2 separate regions of the Homo sapiens genome follow, and region 2 is linked to region 1. Evidence: fine-mapped expression QTL. A gene starts in region 1. The other region holds a variant in brackets. All regions are shown on one strand. Distances are between the middles of the regions. Region 1 holds the start of SMARCA4 (SWI/SNF related BAF chromatin remodeling complex subunit ATPase 4). Region 2 overlaps SMARCA4 (SWI/SNF related BAF chromatin remodeling complex subunit ATPase 4).

Region 1 (9,059 bases):
GGAGTAGCTCTGATTACAGGTGCTCACCACCATGCCATGCTAATTTTTGTATTTTTAGTAGAGATGGGGTCTCGCCATGTTGCCCAGGCTGGTCTTGAACTCCTGGGCTCAAGCAATCTGCCCGTCTCAGACTCCCAAAATACCAGGATTACAGGTGTGAGCCACTGTGCCCAGGCACAAGAGGTCATTTTTGATGAATAAATGCACATTTTGTTAACTAATGAGTGATTTCATATTCCAAGGAAGATCTGGAGATATTACTGAAAAGGTGTTTAACTTGCAGTGGCAACTGAAGTCAATGTATTTTACATTTTCATGTTCTGGACTTGGGTGAGTTGTTATTTCAAGCCCTCATCTTTGAGTAAAAGAGAAGAATCCACCTGTAATCCCAGCCACTCAGGAGGCTGAGGTAGGAGAATCTCTTGAACCTGGGAGGTGGGAGGTGGAGGTTGCAGTGAGCCAAGATTGAGCCACTGCACTCCAGCCTGGGTGACAGGGCAAGACTCCGTCTCAAAAAACAAAAAAAAAAAAAAAAAAGAAGAAGGCCGGGCGCAGTGGCTCATGTCTGTAATCCCAGCACTTTGGGAGGCCAAGGTGGGCAGATAACGAGGTCAGGAGATCGAGACCATCCTGGCTAACACGGTGAAACCCCGTCTCTACTAAAAATACAAAAAATTAGCCTGGCGTGGTGGCGGGCACCTGTAGTCCCAGCTACTCAGGAGGCTGAGGCAGGAGAATGGCGTGAACCTGGGAGGCGGAGCTTGCAGTTAGCGGAAATTGCGCCAAAAAAAAAAAAAAAAAAATCCATTCTCCTCTGGGATGATTCCCCTCCCCCACTTCCCGTTCCCTCCTCTCCCCTCCCCTCCCCTGCCCTGCCCTCTCCTCCCCTTCTTTTTTTTTTTTTTTTGAGATGGAGTCTCTGTCGCCCAGGCTAGAGTGCAGTGGTGTGATCTTGGCTCACTGCAACCTTCGCCTCCTGGGTTCAAGCGATTCTCCTACCTCAGCCTCCCGAGTAGCTGGGACTACAGGTGCTTGACACCACACCTGGCTAATTTTTGTATTTTAATAGAGACGGGGTCTCTCTTTTTTTTTTTTTTTTAGAGACAGACTCTCGCTCTGTCGCCCAGGCTGGAGTGCAGTGGCGGGATCTCAGCTCACTGCAAGCTGTGCCTCCCGGGTTCACGCCATTCTCCTGCCTCAGCCTCCTGAGTAGCTGGGACTACAGGCGCCTGCCACTACGCCTGGCTAATTTTTTTGTATTTTTAGTAGAGACGGGGTTTCACTGTGTTAGCCAGGATGGTCTCGATCTCCTGACCTCGTGATCTGCCCGCCTCGGCCTCCCAAAGTGCTGGGATTACAGGTGTGAGCCACTGCGCCCAGCTGAGACGGGGTTTCACCATATTGACCAGGTCTCGAACTCCATATTGACCTTGCGATCCCAGAGAAAGTGCTGGGATTACAGGCGTGAGCCACCGTGCCTGGTTGAGACAGGGTTTCACCATATTGACCTGGTCTCGAGCTCCTGACCTTGTGATTTGCCTGCCTCGGCCTCCTAAAGTGCTGGAATTACAGGCGTGAGCCACTGCGCCCAGCCTGTAGATGTTTTTTTTTTAAAGTCTGGAAGCCAAGGGTGTCAATGCAGACATGGGGCCAAGGTCCCAGGGGCAGTTCATTATTAAGAACTGTGCTCTTAATTGAGACACCTGGCAAATTTTGTATTGCTTTGTAGAGATGGGGTTTCACAATGTTACCCAAGCTGGTCTTGAACGCCTGTCCTCAAGTGATCTGCCAGCCTGGGCCTCCCAAAGTACTGCCATTATAGGCATGCATGAGCTACCACAACCGGCCTGTTTTTCTTTTTTGAGACGGAGTTTCGCTCTTGTTGCCCAGGCTGGAGTGCAACGGCATGATCTCAGCTCACCGCAACCTCTGCCCGCTGGGTTCAAGCGATTCTCTTGCCTCAGCCTCCCAAGTAGCTGGGATTACAGGCATGCACCACCACACCCGGCTAATTTTGTATTTTTTTAGTAGAGACAGGGTTTCTCCACGTCGGTCAGGCTAGTCCTGAACTCCTGACCTCAGGTGATCCGCCTGCCTCGGCCTCCCAAGTGCTGGGATTACAGGCGTGAGGCACCGCGCCTGGCCCGGCCTGTTTTTCTTTACACTATTGCATATTAGTGTGATTAGCATAAAAGACAATTAGAGAACAGTCATACCATCCACTCCATGGGCAGCAACCCTGCCTCCTCCATGCATTGCTGCAGGGTATTCCTAGCTCAATGCTTAGCATTTGGAGAGAGCATAAGAAATACTATTTGGCCGGGCGCCTTGGCTCACGCCTGTAATCCCAGCACTTTGGGAGGCTGAGGTGGGAGGATCACCTGAGCCCAGGAGTTTGAAACCAGCCTGGACGACATAGTGTGACTGTCTCTACAAAAAATTTTAAGAAAATTAGCTGAGTGTGGTGTCCCACCCTTGTAGTCCAAGCTACTCGGGAGGCTGAGGCAGGAGGATCGCTTGAGCCCAGGAGGTCGAGGCTACAGTGAGTACTGATCGTGCCACCGCAGTCCAGGCTGGATGACCCAGCAAGCCTGTGTCTCAAAAACAAAAACAAAAAAACAAAAAAATAACTACTTGAATGAATGAGGAATCGAGTTCAGATCCCACTTCTACTTGCTCACTTACTGTGCACTATTCAATAACACTAGCTGAGGATCAGAGAGCTAGCAGGTGGGCTACCTGCTGTCATGATTCCTCATAACCAAACAGTGGAAGTGGGAGCCATTATTGTTTCTGGTGGGTTTTTTTTGTTTTGTCTTGTTTTGTTTTTGAGACGGAATCTCCCTCTGTCACCAGGCTGGAGTATAGTGGCACGCTCGACTCACTGCAACCTCCGCCTCCTGGGTTCATGCAATTCTGCCTCAGCCTCCTGAGTAGCTGGCACTACAGGCACGCGCCACCACAGCCAGCTAATTTTTGTATTTTTAGTAGAGATGGTGTTTCACCACATTGGCCAGGATGGTCTCAATCTCTTGACCTCATGATCCACCTGCCTTGGCCTCCCAAAGTGTTGGGATTACAGACGTGAGCCACTGGGCCCAGCATTTTTTTTTTTTTTTTTTTTTTTTGAGATGGAGTTTTACTCTCGTCACCCAGGCTGGAGCGCAATGACATGATCTTGGCTCACTGTAACCTCCACCTCCTGGGTTCAAGAAATTCTCCTGCCTCAGCCTGCCGAGTAGCTGTGATTACAGGCACCTGCCACTATGCCTGGCTAATTAATTTTTTTGTATTTTTAGTAGAAACGGGGTTTCACCATGTTGGCCAGGCTGGTCTCGAACTCCTTACCTCAGGTCATCTGCCCACCTTGGCTTCCGAAAGTGCTGGGATTACAGATGTCAGCCACCGCACCCAGCCTTATTGTTTGTTTCACAGGTGAAGAAAGTGAGGTGTAGATGCTCTGGTAAACCTGCCTGGTATTACCCATGCATCACCCAGGTAGTAGAAATGGAGTCGTGTTTTAAACCCAGGTCCTTCTGGGGCCTGGCTTGGTGGCTCATGCCTGTAATCCCAGTGCACTGGGAGGCTGAGCCAGGAGGACTGCTTGAGCCCAGTAGTTTGAGACCAGCTTGGGTAACACAGCAGACCTCAGCTCTACAGAACATAACAGACAAAAAAAAAAAAAAAAAAAAAAAGCTGGTGGTGGTGGCATGTACCTGTAGTCACAGCTATTTGGGAGGCTGAGGTGGATCCCTTGAGTCCAGGAGTTTGAGGCTGCACTGAGCTGTGGTTACACCATTGCACTCCAGCCTGGGTTACAGAGCAAGACCCTGTCTCTAATAAAACAAACAATTAAACAAAAACCCACCCAGGTGAGGTGGCTCACGCCTGTAATCCCAACACTTTGGGAGGCTGAGGTGGGCGGATCACTTGAGGTCAGGAGTTAAAAACCAGCCTGGCCAACATGGTGAAACTCTGTCTCAACTAAAAATACAAAAATTAGCCGGGCGTGGTGGCGGACGCCTGTAGTCCCAGTTACTCGGGAGGCTGAGGCAGGAGAATCGCTTGAATCTGGGAGGCAGAAGTTGCAGTGAGCTGAGATCGTGCCACCTCACTCCAGCCTGGGCAATGGAGTAAGACTCCGTCTCAAAACAAACAAACAAACAAACAAACAAACAAACAAACACACAAAAAAGAAAACACACAGAAGAGGCCAAGAGGCTCAGGGCCTTCACTCTCGGAGGAAGGTTTCTCTCTTTCACCACCAGCCTGTATGCATTCAAACGTGTTCTTTGCAACGACGACTTCCGTGGCTGCCCTATTTAAAATGTCCATGATCCTCCCAGTGTTCACCTCACACTGTACTATTTATTTTTTTTGAGACGGAATTTCACTCTTGTTGCCCAGGCTGGAGTGCAATAGTACGATCTCGGCTCACTACAATCTCCACCTCCTGGGCTCAAGCGATTCTCCTGCCTCAGCCTCCCGAGTAGCTGTGACTACAGGCGTGTGCCACCACGCCCGGCTAATTTTTTGTATTTTTAGTAAAGACGGGGTTTCACCGTGTTAGCCAGGATAGTCTCATCTCCTGACCTCATGATCCACCAGCCTAGGCCTCCCTAAGTGCTGGGATTACAGGCATGAGCTACCGCGCCCGGCTAATTTTTGTATTTTTAATAGAGACGGGTTTCACCATGGTGGTCAGGCTCGTTTCTAACTCCCGACCTCAGGTGATCCGGCCGCCTCGGCCTCCCAAAGTGCTGGATTACAGGCGTGAGCCACCAAGTCCGGCCTCTCATACTGCACTATTTTGCTTATTAATCTTGCTTCTTGTCCTCCTTCCCCACTAGACCGAGGGCTCCACGGCGGCTGGGACACAGTAGCAGATCAATAAATATTTGCTAAGCTAATTAATGGCACTTGGGAAGTTTTGCAGAGAAGGCGGCCACGGTCGGGCCCCGCCTTGCCTCCCCAAATAGGCCTCGCCGCCCCAGGTCAGGGATCAAAGCGGTTCCCAGGCGCGCCCTTGGCCCGCGGGAAACCACTGCCCGGTCTTGGTCCAGGCGGCCCGTCCTACGGTCCAGGGTTCCTATTTCCGAGCCTCAGGGACCTCCTTTCCCCACGGACCCCACGGCCACCGGGATCCCATTCTCCAGTTGCCCCATCGTCACCGCGGCCGCCGCCACCGCCGCCGCAGTGGCGTCCGCTCTGCGCATGCTCCGGGGCGTCAAGACGCGAGGCGTGCAGAAGGCGAAGCGTGCGCAGGCGCGGGGCCATCGCGGCCCGAGTGGGGCGGTGCATCGGACGCGCGTGCTTCCTCCGGGCCACGCCCACCCCCGTCCGCCCAGGGACGGGCGCGCACGCGCGCCGGGAGCGGAAGGGCGGGCTGGCGCGCGCACGAGGCCGGGCAGGCGGCGGAAGCTGGAGAGGCCGCCGCGGTGCTGAGGGGGAGGGGAGCCGGCGAGCGCGCGCGCAGCGGGGGCGCGGGTGGCGCGCGTGTGTGTGAAGGGGGGGCGGTGGCCGAGGCGGGCGGGCGCGCGCGCGAGGCTTCCCCTCGTTTGGCGGCGGCGGCGGCTTCTTTGTTTCGTGAAGAGAAGCGAGACGCCCATTCTGCCCCCGGCCCCGCGCGGAGGGGCGGGGGAGGCGCCGGGAAGTCGACGGCGCCGGCGGCTCCTGGTAAGGAACGCGGGCCGCGGGGGCAGCGCGGCGCGGGGCCGGGGAGGGCGGTTTGAATGGAGCCGGGGCGCCGAGGGGGGAGGGGGCTGCCGGCGCGCCCTGTGCGGGGCCGGGGTACGGCGGCGCCCGAGGGTCAAGAAGCCCAGCCGGCAGCCGCGCGCGTGGGGAAGGCCACAGTGTCGCGAGGCCGTGGCAGCGGCGGCCCCCGCGGAGCGGCGGGGTGGGTGGGGGGCCCGGGCCGCGTGGAGGCCGCGCGATCCTCTCCGCGCGCGCTCTCGCCGGGGTCGCCGGACAAAGCTCGCCCCCCTCGCCCGGCACCCCTACAGTCGCCCTCCCAATTACAGCGGCTGCAACAATAGGCAGGCGTTGGGGCTTTTCTGGCTGCGTGGTAACGGGTCCGACCCGAATGTTGCGTTTTTGGCGAAGCTGCGATCGGGGCTCAGCCAAACCTCCAGATATGTCCGGCGTCGGCCGGACACGGGCATTAGCGGTCCCCTTGGGCTAGCCGACCTCAAATTGTCTTAAAAACGTGTCATTCCAGATTTTCAAGGAAAGGTAAAGGACTCCCCCGATGCCTTGCAGTTAGTGACTTCAAAATGTTTGCCCGAATTGGGGTTGGGGATGGGGTCGGCGGCAAGTAGGGGAGCACGGAGGAAATCCTTTGCTGTGTAAAAGCATTGCTTTTCTTTTGCATCCTTTTTTCTCCTTCCCAATTGGTTTTTCAGATTAAGGCTTTTATTTTCAACGTGGACCTTTTGGGCGAGTGTTTTGTCCCGATCTTGAAGATACCAGTCTTGATTTTTTTTTTTTTTTTTTTTGGTCAGTGACTCCTTGGGGAAAGTAGCAAGGGAATAAGCGGAAAAGCCGCTTCGCAGGAATTTGAAGCAAGTTTTCAGTTTGGATTGATAGGCTGCATTCAAGCTTGATTCCTGGTGCTGTCAGTCACTTAGCACACTGTCACTTTAGGGAAGTGGCTTAACCTCTCTGAACCTCTTAGTTTTCCTCCTTTGTGAAAGCTCCTTTGTGAAAGGGGGTAATCTCCCAAATGGAATTGGTGAAAGCCTGTAAAATGGTTCCTCGCAAGCGGGAAGCACTATTGTAATTGTCTGGTCCAATCTCCCTCATTGTTCAGCAGATAACTTCTTGAGGCCCTACTAAGTGTTGGATGGTCGGGGGTTGGATCCTGGAGCCTCTGCAGTCTTGGAGGGGAGCGGGTGGTAAATGTGGGAACAAACTCTCTTGGCCTATCGTTTATTGCTCTGAACCTGCACTGTGAGAGGGACACAGCGGACAGGCAGGGGATCGGTGGTAGCCAGAGATCACGGGGGCTGCTTGGAAGAGGGGGCCTCAAAATCAGGGAGGGTGTGTAGGATTGTATTTTGTTTTTGAGGCAGAGTCTTGCCTGTCGCCCAGGCTGGAGTTCAGAGTCCCAATCTCCGCTCACTGTAACCTCCGCCTCCTGGGTTCAAGCGATTCTCCTGCCTCAGCCTCCTGAGTAGCTGGGACTACAGGCGCCCGCCACCACGCCTGGCTAATTTTTGTATTTTTAGTAGATATGGGGTTTTACCATGTTGGCCAGGCTGGTCTCAAACTCCTGACTTAAGGTGATCCACCCACCTCGGCCTCCCAAAGTGCTAGGACTACATGTGTGAGCCACTGCGCCAGGATTGTATTTTGACTTTCCCTGGCCACCTCGGACTAGCCATTGTTCCCCTCAGCTACATTCATACATCAACTTGGTCCTTTCCGGTGTAGCTGTCACCCCCAGCACCGTGAGAGCTGGGGTTGTGTCTGCCTGGCTGGCCCCACAGTACCCTGGGCCTGACACATAGTAGGTCTTTAGCGAACTTATGTGGATTGAATGAGGGGGTCCTGTGGAAGATCGCGTGACCATCTGTGTAAAAGGCTTGGTGCAGGGCCAGGTGCAGTGGCTCATACCTGAAATCCCAGCACTTGGGGAGGCTGAGGCGGGAAAATTGCTTGAACCCGGGAGTTTGAGACTAACCTGGGCAACATAGTGAGACCTCATCTCTACAAAAAATACAAAAATTAGCCGAGTGTGGTGGCATGCACCGGTGGTCCCAACTACTCAGGAGGCTGAGGTAGGAGGACTGCTTGAGCCAGAGAGGTGGAGGCTGCAGTGAGCCATTCTTGTGCCCCTGCATTCCAGCCTGTGCACCAGAGTAAGACTGTCTCAAAAAAAAAAAAAAAAAAAAAGAAAAAGAAAGCTTGGTGCAGGACTGGGGGTGGATTGTAAGGGATACAGGTTAGTTGTTTGAACAGTTTTTGCACTTTCCAAGCCATTGTTTCCTGAACCTCAGTTGTCCTCATCTCCCCTACAAAGTGTGGGGTGGTGGTTAGCGTGGGGTGGTGGTAAGGAGTACTCATTCTGGAATCAGACCTCCTGAATTCACACCCAGCTCTCTAAATCGTAGCTTAACCTCAAGCGAGGCGCTTAGCAGTAGGGCCCCCCACTTGTGAAACAGGTAGGACGAGGATGCCCGAAACTTCACAGGCTTCTTGTGAGGGTTGAATGAGGTCACATGGGAAGCCGCTAACACACTGCTGCACCTGATGCGTAGTGAACACTTGATTTTTTTTTTTTTTTTGAGACGGAGTCTCGCTCTGTCATCCGGGCTGGAGTGCAATGCCCCTGTAGTCCCAAGCTCCTTGAGAGGCTGGGGCAGGAGGTACAGGCTGCAGTGGACCATGATTGAGCCACTGCACTCCAGCCTGGGTGACGAAGCGAGACCCTGTCTAAAAAAAGGAATAAAAATTAATTCATGCATAGTTAGGAAAGTAATAAATGGTTTTGCATGGGCCACCTAAAATCATTTTGTGTCCAGCCCTTTAGGAGACGTAAATGTTGATCGTGCAGGCTTTTGAGCAGGGGAGGTGATGTCATCAGAATTGTGATATAGGGCAGTGCAGTGGTCTCTAAACTTCTTGTCAGTGAGGAGCATTCCAACATATGTGTATTTATTTACAATTTATTTGTGTACCTTTGCTTCTCCTTGGGAACCCTCAAAACACCAGGAGATAACCTTAGACCATTCCATGTTTTGGCTGTTTGTGGGAGGTGGGAGCATGGGAGGGACTAGGGTTTTGGGCAGATGTCTGGTGGAACTTTCTTTCTTTCTTTCTTTTTTTTTTGAGACGGAATCTTACTCTTGTTGCCCAGGCTGGAGTGCAATGGCACGATCTCGTCTCACTGCAACCTCTGCCTCCCGGGTTCAAGCGATTCTTCTGACTCAGCCTCCTGAGTAGCTGGGATCACAGGTGTGCACCACCACACCTGGCTAAGTTTTGTATTTTTAGTAGAGATGGGATTTCATCATGTTGGCCAAGCTGGTCTTGAACTCCTGACCTCAACTGATCCACCC
Region 2 (10,600 bases), 53 kb after region 1:
TTGAGTAAGGGGTCCCGACACAGGTTGTTCTGTGCCAGCTTCCTGTGAGGTGGCGCTGGTGGGAGTGGCTAGAATCCCAGCCATCCCTAGCTGACATTCAGCACTGTCCAGCCAGCTGCTACTGTGGAACTACAGAGACCAAATTTATTTACTTCACATTTCATGTATTTTATAGGGATTTAATAGAGCAATTGCATTCGCATGGTTCACCATATGCTTACGAGGTACAGTCAGGTGTGCGGGAGAAGCCCTCCTCACCCCGTTCTCTGCTCCCCGGCTCCCTCCCTTTCCACTACCCTCCCTGGGGAAACTTTCCAGCCTTGTGTGTCATCTTCCAGAGATGCTGTCTGCATTAGCAAGCAAAATGTGCATATTTTTGTCTTCATTTGCATACATATCTCCAGTGTACATTGGTGTGCACCTTGTTATTTTCACTGAACCTTCCCTCTTGGAGGTCATCCTGTGTCCGTGCAGAGTGCTTCCAGTCTGGTCCTCAGCGTGCAGTGTCATACTGCGTCACGTTATATTCTCATTTTCGTAGCCTGTCCTTTGGTGACAAGCGTTTAGGTTATATTTGTCATCTTTTGCTCCTGTAACACATCACAGTTAACACAGTAATCTCTTCATTGCTTATGGTAAGGAATTAATAGATCCTGTTAAAAAGCAAGTGAGGGCTGGGCGTGGTGGCTCAGGCCTGTAATCCCAGCACTTTGGGAGGCCAAGGCAGGTGGATCACTTGAGGTCAGGAGTTCAAGACCAGCCTGGCCAACTTGGTGAAACCGCATCTCTACTAAAAATACAAAAATTAGCTGGGCGTGGTGGCGTGCACCTGGAGTCCCAGCTACTTGGGAGGCTGAGACAGGAGAATCGCTTGAAATGGGGAGGAGGAGGCTGCAGTGAGCTGAGATAGCGCCACTGCACTCTAGCCTGGGCAACAGAGGGAGACTCCATCTCAAAAAAAAAAAAAATGTAGGTGGATAAAAGTCACTTTTTTTTTTTTTTTTTTTTTTTTTTTTTTTTTTGAGATAGAGTCTTGCTCTTCACCAGGCTGGAGTACAGTGGTGCGATCTTGGCTCACTGCAACCTCCACCTCCTGGGTTCGAGTGATTCTCTTGCCTCGGCCTCCTGAGTAGCTGGCACAACAGGCGCGGGCCACCACGTCCAGCTAATTTTTGTGTTTTTAGTAGAGATGGGGTTTCACCATGTTGGCCAGGATGGTCTTGATCTCTTGACCTCATGATCTACCCACTTTGAGCTCCCAAAGTGCTGGGATTACAGGCGTGAGCCACCGCACCTGGCCAGAGTTACTTTTTAAAAGAAAAACATTCAGATTAGATTACAAATTGCCTAAGTTTTAACAGCTCTGGTTTTGTATGAACCTGTTCAGTCTGTGTTTCTTTTCACCTTTAGGCTCATGAATTGTTCTTAGAAAGGGTGGGTTCTATGATGATCAGCATCTGGCTAGGTGCAGAGTGTCTTTCTGTGCTGTGGCAAGTGACAGCATTCTATTTGTTGTTTTGAGACAGTCTTGCTCAGTCGCCCAGGCTGGAGTGCAGTGGCTCGATCTCTTGACTCACTGCAGCCTCTGCCTCCGGGCTTAAGTGTTTCTTTTACCTCAGCCTCCTGAGTAGCTGGGGTTACAGGCATGCACCACCACGCCCGGCTAACTTTTTTTTTTTTTTTTTTTGAGACAGAGTCTTGCTCTGTCGCCCAGGCTAGAGTGCAGTGGCACGATCTCGGCTCTCTGCAAGCTCCGCCTCCCAGGTTCATGCCATTCTCCTGCCTCAGCCTCCCAAGTAGCTGGGACTACAGGCGCCTGCCACCACGCCCGGCTAATTTTTGTATTTTTAGTAGAGACGGGGTTTCACCATGTTGGCCAGGCTGGTCTAGAATTCCTGACCTCAGGTGATCCACATGCCTTGGCCTCCCAAAGTGCTGGGATTACAGGTGTAAGCCACTGTGCCCAGCCTAATTTTTGTTTTTTGTAGTAGAGATGGGGTTTCACCATGTTGGCCAGGCTGGTCTTGATCTCCTGGCCTCAAGTGATCCACCTGCTTCAGCCTCCCAAAGTGTTGAAATTACAGGCGTGAGCCACCACGCCCATCAGAGTGACAGAATTCTTGTACTGTGGTGGTGCAATCAGGACCCAGAGCTCCCAGGAGTCCAGTCTGGACCCCTCAGGCTTAGTGCGGGCTGCCCTGCCTGGCCTCACACTGTCCGGCTGCACCTCTATGTGTCTTACAGTGCTGGCCACAGGTCATTCAGCAGAAAGGGCCACTCCGCAGAGCTTGTGTCAGGAGCCAGCACATTGTCACAGATAGGAATGTGTGTCCTTACCCGGCACCTCCATCTCACTCCCAGGAATGCCAAGCAAGATGTCGATGATGAATATGGCGTGTCCCAGGCCCTTGCACGTGGCCTGCAGTCCTACTATGCCGTGGCCCATGCTGTCACTGAGAGAGTGGACAAGCAGTCAGCGCTTATGGTCAATGGTGTCCTCAAACAGTACCAGGTGAGGTAGGGGGTGGGGAGGCCACCGCCACGTAGCTGCCTCGGTGCAGGTGTTCCCAGGTGGTGCGGGCTTCAGACCTCAGGCAGACCTGAGTTCACCTTTTGCTCTTTGTGGGCAATGCACTCTTCCCCTCTGAGCCTCGGTTTCCCCATGTGTAAAGCAGAGATGTGGTCTGGTAGGTTAGCTGCCAGGAGGACGTGCAACAGCAGAAAGTCAGTGTCTACTGGGTGCCCGATGTGCCAGGCAGAGTGGGAGCGATTTGCACTCCAGTGGCCTCACAGAGGAGACGGGGCCACCTGAGGAGCAGAGAGGTGCAGCACCTCCTCAGCATCGCACCGTGTGTAGGACTGAACCAGGGCCGGAGCTCAGATCTGGGCATCTGCATGCTCAGGACAGGTTACCTGAGCTCTGTGTGGTGTGAAACGGCGAGCGTCAGGAGCTTAGATCTAGGAGCCGGCAGCCCTGGACTCCGCTCTTTCTTCTGGGGATGAGGTAGCAGGTCCTGTGTGAGGGTGAAAAGTTGGTGGCTCTGAAGCTCTTCACCTGGGCCTGACTTGGGACAGTCACGAAACAGAGCTGCTCATGCTCTTAATGCGGCCTGCCATCCAGAGCTCATTACAAGGCCCCACAAGACAACCAGTACAACTCCAACCAAAGAACAGCTCTCTCTGGTTTTCAATTTGGTTGTTTCTTTTCTTTTCTTTTTTTTTTTTGAAACGGAGCCTCTCTGTTGCCCAGGCTGGAGTGCAATGGCGCGATCTCAGCTCACTGCAACCTCTGCCTCCCGGGTTCAAGTGATTCTCCTGCCTCAGACTCCTGAGTAGCTGGGACTACAAGTGCGTGCCATCACGCCCGGCTAGTTTTTGTATTTTTAGTAGAGACAGAGTTTCACCATGTCGGCCAAGCTGGTCTCAAACTCCTGACCTCAGGTGATCCGCCCACCTTGGCCTCCCAAAGTGCTGGGATTACAGATGTAAGCCAGTGCACCCAGCCCCAACTTTCTTTAAGACAACTCTTAAACCTTTTGTGCTAGTATCAACATTCAAAGCTGCACATGCACCTATAGTCCCAGCTACTTAAGAGGCTGAGATGGGAGGATCGCATGAGCCCAGGAGTTGAAAGTGGGCCTGGGCAACATAGTGAGACACTGCCTCTACAAAAATATTTTAAAAATTAGCTGGGGGTGGTAGCACACATCTGTAGTCCCAGATAGTTGGGCGGCTTAGGTGGGAGGAGAGCCCGAGCCCAGGACTTCTGAGCTGTAGCGCCCTATGTCGATCAGGTGTCTGTACTAAGTTCAGCATGAATATGATGACCTTCCAGGAGTGGGGCACCACCAGGTGGCCTAAGGAGGAGCGAATCTGCCCAGGTCAGAAATGGAGCAGGTCAAAACTGATGTGCTGATCCGTAGTGAGATAGTCCCTGTGAAGAGCCACTGCACTCCAGCCTGGGTGGCATAGCGAGACCCCATCTCTATAAAACAATAATGAAACAAAGGCAAAGCTCATGGTTAGTGGAATTTTCCAAGAGTCCCATGCAATTAAAATAATTAGAACTTGGCTAGGCGCAGTGGCTCATGGCTGTGATGCCAGCACTTTGGGAGACCAAGGCGGGTGGATCACCTGAGGTCAGGAGTTTGAGACCAGGCTGGCCAACATGATGAGACCCTGTCTCTACCGAAAATACAAAAAATTAGCTGGGCATGGTGGTGCATGCCTGTAATCCCAGCTACTTGGGAGGCTGAGGCAGAATTGCTTGAACCTGGGAGGCAGAGGTTGCAGTGAGCCAAGATCGGGCCACTGCACTCCAGCTTGGGTGAGAGTGAGACTCGGTCTCAAAAAAAAAAAAATGAATTAGAACTTGGCCAGAACTTACTTCCTCAATCCATTACGAACATTTCCAAATTTTCCTTCATAACGTTATCTTCAGTTTGCAAATAGTCTTCTGTTTAAGGCCTGTATTTCAGAAAGCTCCCAGGCTTTGGAAATCCCTCTCTTAATCTTGAAATGATGTTCAGGCAGTGAATTCCTCACGAAGTCGCCCTGAAGCCCTCTTGGTTTCCTGAGTGCAAGTGTCCCGTGGTGTGGGCAGGTTTTTCCTGTGTGCTGTGTGGGGCATGGACAGGCAGACAATGTAACAGGTGGGAGTGAGCTGTTGAGATGTGTATTAGAAATGTCACACGTGTCCATCGTTCGCACAGTCATCCTGCAGCTTCACAGACGTTATTGCTAAGGATGAGGCTAAGCGATAAAGAATCAGTTTGGTTCAGAGGAAAAATCCGTGGTAAAGGCAGTAGAGGGTGGGATGTGGCTTAGGCAGAACTCGTGGCTGGCGGTGTCTTGACTCTCTGAAGTGGGAGGACCCTCTGGTGTCCGACCCGGCCTTCAGTCCTGGCGTGGCCGCATCTGTCCTTG[C/A]AGATCAAAGGTTTGGAGTGGCTGGTGTCCCTGTACAACAACAACCTGAACGGCATCCTGGCCGACGAGATGGGCCTGGGGAAGACCATCCAGACCATCGCGCTCATCACGTACCTCATGGAGCACAAACGCATCAATGGGCCCTTCCTCATCATCGTGCCTCTCTCGTGAGTACCCGCTGCCAGCAACATCCCACACGCCGCTCACACGCTCCTGTGTTTGTTTCCTAAGTTTGCCGCAGTAGAATACCACAAACGAGGTGGCTTAATTACAGAAATTTGTTTTCCTGGAGGCCAGAAGTCCAGGGTCAAGGTGTAGCAGGTTGCTTCCTCCTGAGGCCTCTCTTCCTGCTTGCAGGGATACGTGCTTACATGTATCTCACTGTGTCTTCACATGGTCCTTCCTCTGTGCGTGTCTGTGTCCTCATCTCTTCTTCTTAGAAGGACATGGGTCAGGTTGGATGAGGGTGCATCCTAATGGCCTGCTTTAACTTCATTGCCTCTGTATTGGCCCTGTCTCCAGGTACAGTCGCATCCTGAGCTGCTGGGGGTCAGGACTGCTCCACCAGCCTCGGGGCTGTGCACAGCTCCACCCGTCACAGCCTCTGCCTCTGGGTCCCGGATCAAGTGGGGGCATGACTGTGCATCCCCTCCACCCCTGGGGAGGCCTGGGGTCCCTCTCCCGGGATGTCCTTGGTGTCCTTTTCAAGTCCCACAACCAGCAAAGTCCATGCAGGGGAGTCGCAGGAGACAAGAACCTCCCACTAGAAAAGTAGGGTGAGGCCATTGAGGCTCCATTGAACAGTCTCTACTTCCTCACTGTGCAGTGCCCTGCAAGGGCCACCAGAGCCCTCGGGCACATCCCAGCATGGCCCAGGTCCTTGGGCATGGTGGGATCCGGACACCCTGAGAGGCTCTCACTTGCCACTGCCTGGCTCCACCGGCCTTTTTCTCCCTGCAAACAGAGTCCGCCCCCCTGCCCACCTCTCTCGACATCTCTCTACCCAGCTCAGCCCCTGCACTAAAGGGGGACCTGCCTAGGGTTTTCCCAGAAAGCCCCAGGGCCGGCTCTTACTGGTCCAGTTCAAGTCACATGTCCAGCAAGCAGACAGTCACCGGCCTGGGGGTTAGTCTGGTCTGATTGGGCAAACTTCAGCATAGCATTTGGTCTGGCCCTAGAGCACAGCCCCTAACTCCAACCAGGCACTCATTGGGACCACTACAGCCACGAGTCAGCAGCGGACCCCCAACTCCTGGCAGGCTGGGGAGCGGCATGCCCATGCTCCAACCCCATGGGAAAATGCCCTTCTGCCTATAAGACAGCCAGGCCCCATGGGTCACACACCCATAGGGTAGGCCTGACGTCCTGACTGTTGCAGGGAGGACTGGAGGAAAGGTGAGGACCCCAGAACCCTCCCAGGTTTACTGTGGAACTGTTTCTTTCTTCTATCTCCCTGCTTCCTACGTGGCGGGTAGAACAGACTGCTCTGAAGGAGCAGGGCGTCCTTGTGCACAGCGCTGCAGGTAGCTGCACCTCCCCTCGTGGTCAGACCCAGATTGCTACAGCGTTCCTGCTGCACCTGCCTGAGCTCTGTCCCCTGTCTGTGTCTGGAGGCTGTTCCTTCCGGCTCTGCCCACCTCCTGGCTCCCCTCTGCCCTTCTTCCCCTGGAGGCTGATGGGTGCAGTGGCAGTCGCCCTCTGCAGTTCCCGATTTTCCCTCCTTTCACTTACAGACTTCTCAGATCACCATCTCTGCTGGAACGCCGCTCTCCAGGGTGCTGTTGTTTTGCAGCCTTGGTTCTTAGTTGTTAATTTTTTGCTTTAAAAAATTTTTTTAAACTTTTCATTTTGAAATGATCTCATTTATTTTTATTTTTTTTTATTTTTTGAGGAGTCTCGCACTGTTGACCAGCCTGGAGTGCAGTGGTGCCATCTTGGTTCACTGCAACCTCTGCCTCCTGGGTTCAAGCGATTCTCCTGCCTCAGCCTCCCGAGTAGCTGGGATTAGAGGCACGCGCCACCATGTCCGGCTAACTTTTTTGCATTTTTAGTAGAGACAGGGTTTCTCCATGTTGGCTAGGCTGGTCTTGAACTCCTGACCCCATGATCTGCCCGCCTTGGCCTCCCAAAGTGCTGGGATTACAGGAGTGAGCCACTGTGCCTGGCGACCTCATTCTTAGAAAACATTGTAGAGTTAGTGTAAAGAATTGCTATGCACCCTTCACCCATCTTCCCCATTCTTTCATAACCCCAAGACAATTATGAAAACCAGGAAGATAACATGGACGTAGGACTAATAGCAAACCAGAGGCCTTATTTACCAATCTTGTCAGTTTTCTCACAAGTGGCCTTGCTCTGGTCCAGGATCCCACACTGTCACGTCTGTGTGGCATGCCTGTGGCAGTTCCTCATTTCGTCTTTGTCCTGGTCGAGCTTGACGCTGTTGAATCCTGATCGGACCTTTGGTAGACTCTCCTTCAATTTGGGTTTGTCCGATGTGATCGCGTGGAGCAACACCACGCCCTGCTTGATGTGCCTTAGCGGGGAAGGCATGAGATGTTGAGGCCTTGGTGTCTCGGGCAAGGTGCCTGCTGGGTTTCCCACTGTAAACCTAGGAGTTACACTTTCCGTTAATAACTGTCTCGTGGGAACGTACTTCGACACTTGTGAATATCTCATTTCTCTTCCTACTTTCCTCAATAATTTCAGCATCTCTTCTACTCCATTTCATGTTGCCATAAAGGAATACCTGAGACTAGGTGATAAAGAAAAGAGGTTTAGCTGGGCGCGGTGGCTCACTCCTGTAATCCCAGCACTTTGGGAGGCCGAGGCAGGCGGATCACCTGAGGTCAGGAGTTTGAGACCAGCCTGACCAACATGGTGAAACCCTGTCCCTACCAAAAATACAAAAAAAAATTAGCCAGGCATGGTGGCGCATGCCTGTAATCCCAGCCACTCAGGAGGCTGAGACAGGAGAATCACTTGAACCTGGGAGACGGGGGTTGCAGTGAGCCAATATCGTGCCATTGCATTCCAGCCTGGGCAACAAGAATGAAACGCCTTCTCAAAAAAAAAAAGAGGTTTATTTGGCTCATGATTCTGCTGGCTGGAAGACTGGGCACCTGGTGAGGGCTTCAGGCGGATTCCACTCCTGGTGGAAGGCAAAGGGGAGCCAGTGTGTAGAGATCCCATGGGGAGGGAGGAGGCGAGGGAGGCGGGGGTGCCGGGCTCCTTTTAACCATAGCTCCCACGAGAGTTCAGAGAGCAGGAACTCATTCATCCCCCATCCCCAGTACAGTACAGGCCGTTCACGAGGGTTCACGAGGCCGTTCACGAGGGAGGCCCCCATGACACAGATGCCTCCCACCAGGCCCCACCTCCAACATTGGAAATCAGACTTCAGCATGAGGTTTGGAGGTGCCAGATACCCAAACTATAGCAGCAAACGTCAGATAAGTCTTGCCTGAAAAAATAATTACATGAGAGTTGCCAAATACATGGTTACCTGTTTCTGTCCGCTCTTCTCTACAAATTAATTGGAATTCCACCGTTAGGAAGAGCTTTCCCGTCTCCCCCATGTGCTTGTTTGGGTAATTATTATATCAGTGTGGGCGTGAACAAATATTATTTATTTTGTTGCTTCAGTTTTTTTCAGATTTGGCCTGGGAGAATTCTCCCTGGAAGAATTGTGTCTTCTCTATGTATTCAGTCATTTGTTAATATGAGTATGGACCCACGGATATTTATTTAGTACTCCAGGCTACGCACCAGTGGCTGGGTTTTTTTTGTTTTGTGGCTCAAATCCATCCAGCTTTGGCCACTGGGAGTGCTTTCAGTTGGCTCTTCTGTCCTTTGACACGCCCCCAGCATCGGGTGAATTTTGAGGACTTTCTTGCTTTTTGGCACCAAGAGATGCTGCAGGCTCATGTAGTCTATTTCCCGCCCACTCCCTCAAATCAGCCATTTCTCCAAGGAGCCCTGGTTTCCCTTCTTACAGAATGGTTTTGGGAACCAAGACCTGGGTCCTGGATGGGCCTGTTGCTTCTGGGGTGTCATTGCTCCTGGGGCCCTCTCAGTGGTCAGTGCTAGGAGATTCATGTGCGCGTGCTGATGCTTTGTGCACGTATCGTCTAAAAGGCCTTCTCTGCCTCGGCATCTGTTTCTGTGTTAAGCTGAACGTGAGTTCATACCACTGTCTGCGGCTCTGAGTGAGGACCACAGGTTCCTTCTCACACTTCCACCCTGTGTGTGCGCCCATTCTCAGCTTCCGTGGACAACAGTTTCAGAGTAGTGAGCCGGTACCTCCGGGAAGCATCTTGAGCCACTAGAGCGCAGGCCTTGGGGCCAGTTCCTTGTGTGTTCAGACCTCCAGATTGCAGTCAGATTCCATTTCCAGGGTGATAGAGGTCACCTTCTTCCCCTACTTCAGTGAGGTTGTGAGGTGGGTGCTCCTGCAGTCTTTCCCACTGCGCCCCACCTGGGCAAGCGTCCATGCTGTGGAACGCCAGCTCCTGCAGGCCAGAAGAGGGCCCGCGCGCTAGGAAATGTTTACGGCGTATGGGCATCCGGCTGTGCCGGCCCTCTCACTGGGAATTGCTGCCTCCTGCCATGAGCTGCTTGTCCTGCCTCCGTTTGGACCTCTGTCTCTGGGACCTGTCCCCTCAGTCCCCTCCTGACCCTTGCTCCTGGCTCTTCTCCCTCCCAGTGCAGATGCTCCGCACACCTCCGGCTTCTCCCTTGGTGCGCTGACTGTCCCCATCACTCCAGGGAGGTTTCACTGTTCCTGAGTCAGCGGAAGCACAGGGTCAGGCCCTACGGGCCAGGTCCGGTGGCTCCAAGATGCCATCAGGGACCCAGCCTCCCCCAGGTTTCTGCCCAGTCATTCTTGGGTGACTCCAACCCTCAGGCTCCTTACCTCATGGTTGCAGGACGGCTGCACTGCCTCCCTCGCCTCATGCAGGAGAGTGGGCAGGAAAGAGTTCTAGGAGAGTGGGCAGGGCAAAAGGCAGCAGAAGCGCAAGGCTGCTGAGCCTCTGCTCCCCACGCTTCTTCAGGAACTCTCCCCAGCCTTCACCACAGCCATGCGTCCTTCTGTCTATTGGCTGTGCCGCCTGGTTGGCTGTGGCTTCCAGCGGGGCTGGAGATGGGTTCATGGTGGACACAGCACCTCCCTCGTGGAGCTGCTTGGGGGCAAACCACGAGTAGTCCCTGGGACTCCAGCTTCGAGCCCTGTCTTTACGGACCACCCCGTCTAGACTTTCTGAGTGGCTTCCCTCCCCCACTGAAAACTCCCTGCCCCAGAGTTCCTCCCAGAGCCCGTCCCCTTTGGGACTCAGCTTTATTACCGCCTCCACCCTCTCCTCAGTCTCTAGGCTGTCGGTCTCAGGTGACTCACCCCTCCCCACTGCATTCTGCCTGCCCCCATGTCCTCCCTCATTCCAGCCCTGGTCATCCCACAGGGGAACAGCCACGAGTTGCCGCTCCCTCCCATCCCTGTCCTCCCGCCTGCCACCTGAGCCAGGCCCCGCCTCGCCCCTCACTGTCCTCGTTCTCTCTCACAGTCAGGAACCTTCCGTGGCTGGAGGGTGGCAGAAAGACTGTTTGGTGTCTCCTATATCCTCAGGTCTCCACAGCACTGTTGCTAGCCTGGCTCTGGGCGTGAAGCCTGTGCTCT

Evidence for each region. PIP is the estimated chance that this variant, and not a neighbour inherited with it, causes the effect.
Region 2: its variant is the best candidate, but not a certain one, in a credible set for the expression of SMARCA4 in whole blood (TOPMed, PIP 0.88).

Annotation. Positions count from the first base shown.
Region 1 is chr19:10,955,499-10,964,557 of GRCh38, forward strand. SMARCA4 (SWI/SNF related BAF chromatin remodeling complex subunit ATPase 4) reads left to right here and starts at 5,532. Exons shown (of 35, transcript NM_003072.5): 1 at 5,532-5,676. RefSeq lists silencers at 5,260-5,679, 5,730-5,789, 5,840-5,899 and an enhancer at 8,417-8,546.
Region 2 is chr19:11,008,020-11,018,619 of GRCh38, forward strand. SMARCA4 (SWI/SNF related BAF chromatin remodeling complex subunit ATPase 4) reads left to right here. Exons shown (of 35, transcript NM_003072.5): 14 at 1-4; 15 at 2,362-2,512; 16 at 4,930-5,093. It also overlaps the pseudogene RN7SL192P. Among named protein-coding and RNA genes, the nearest start is that of SMARCA4, 52 kb to the left of the region's middle. RefSeq lists an enhancer at 1,831-2,331. The variant C/A (reference allele first, on the strand shown) is at 4,927.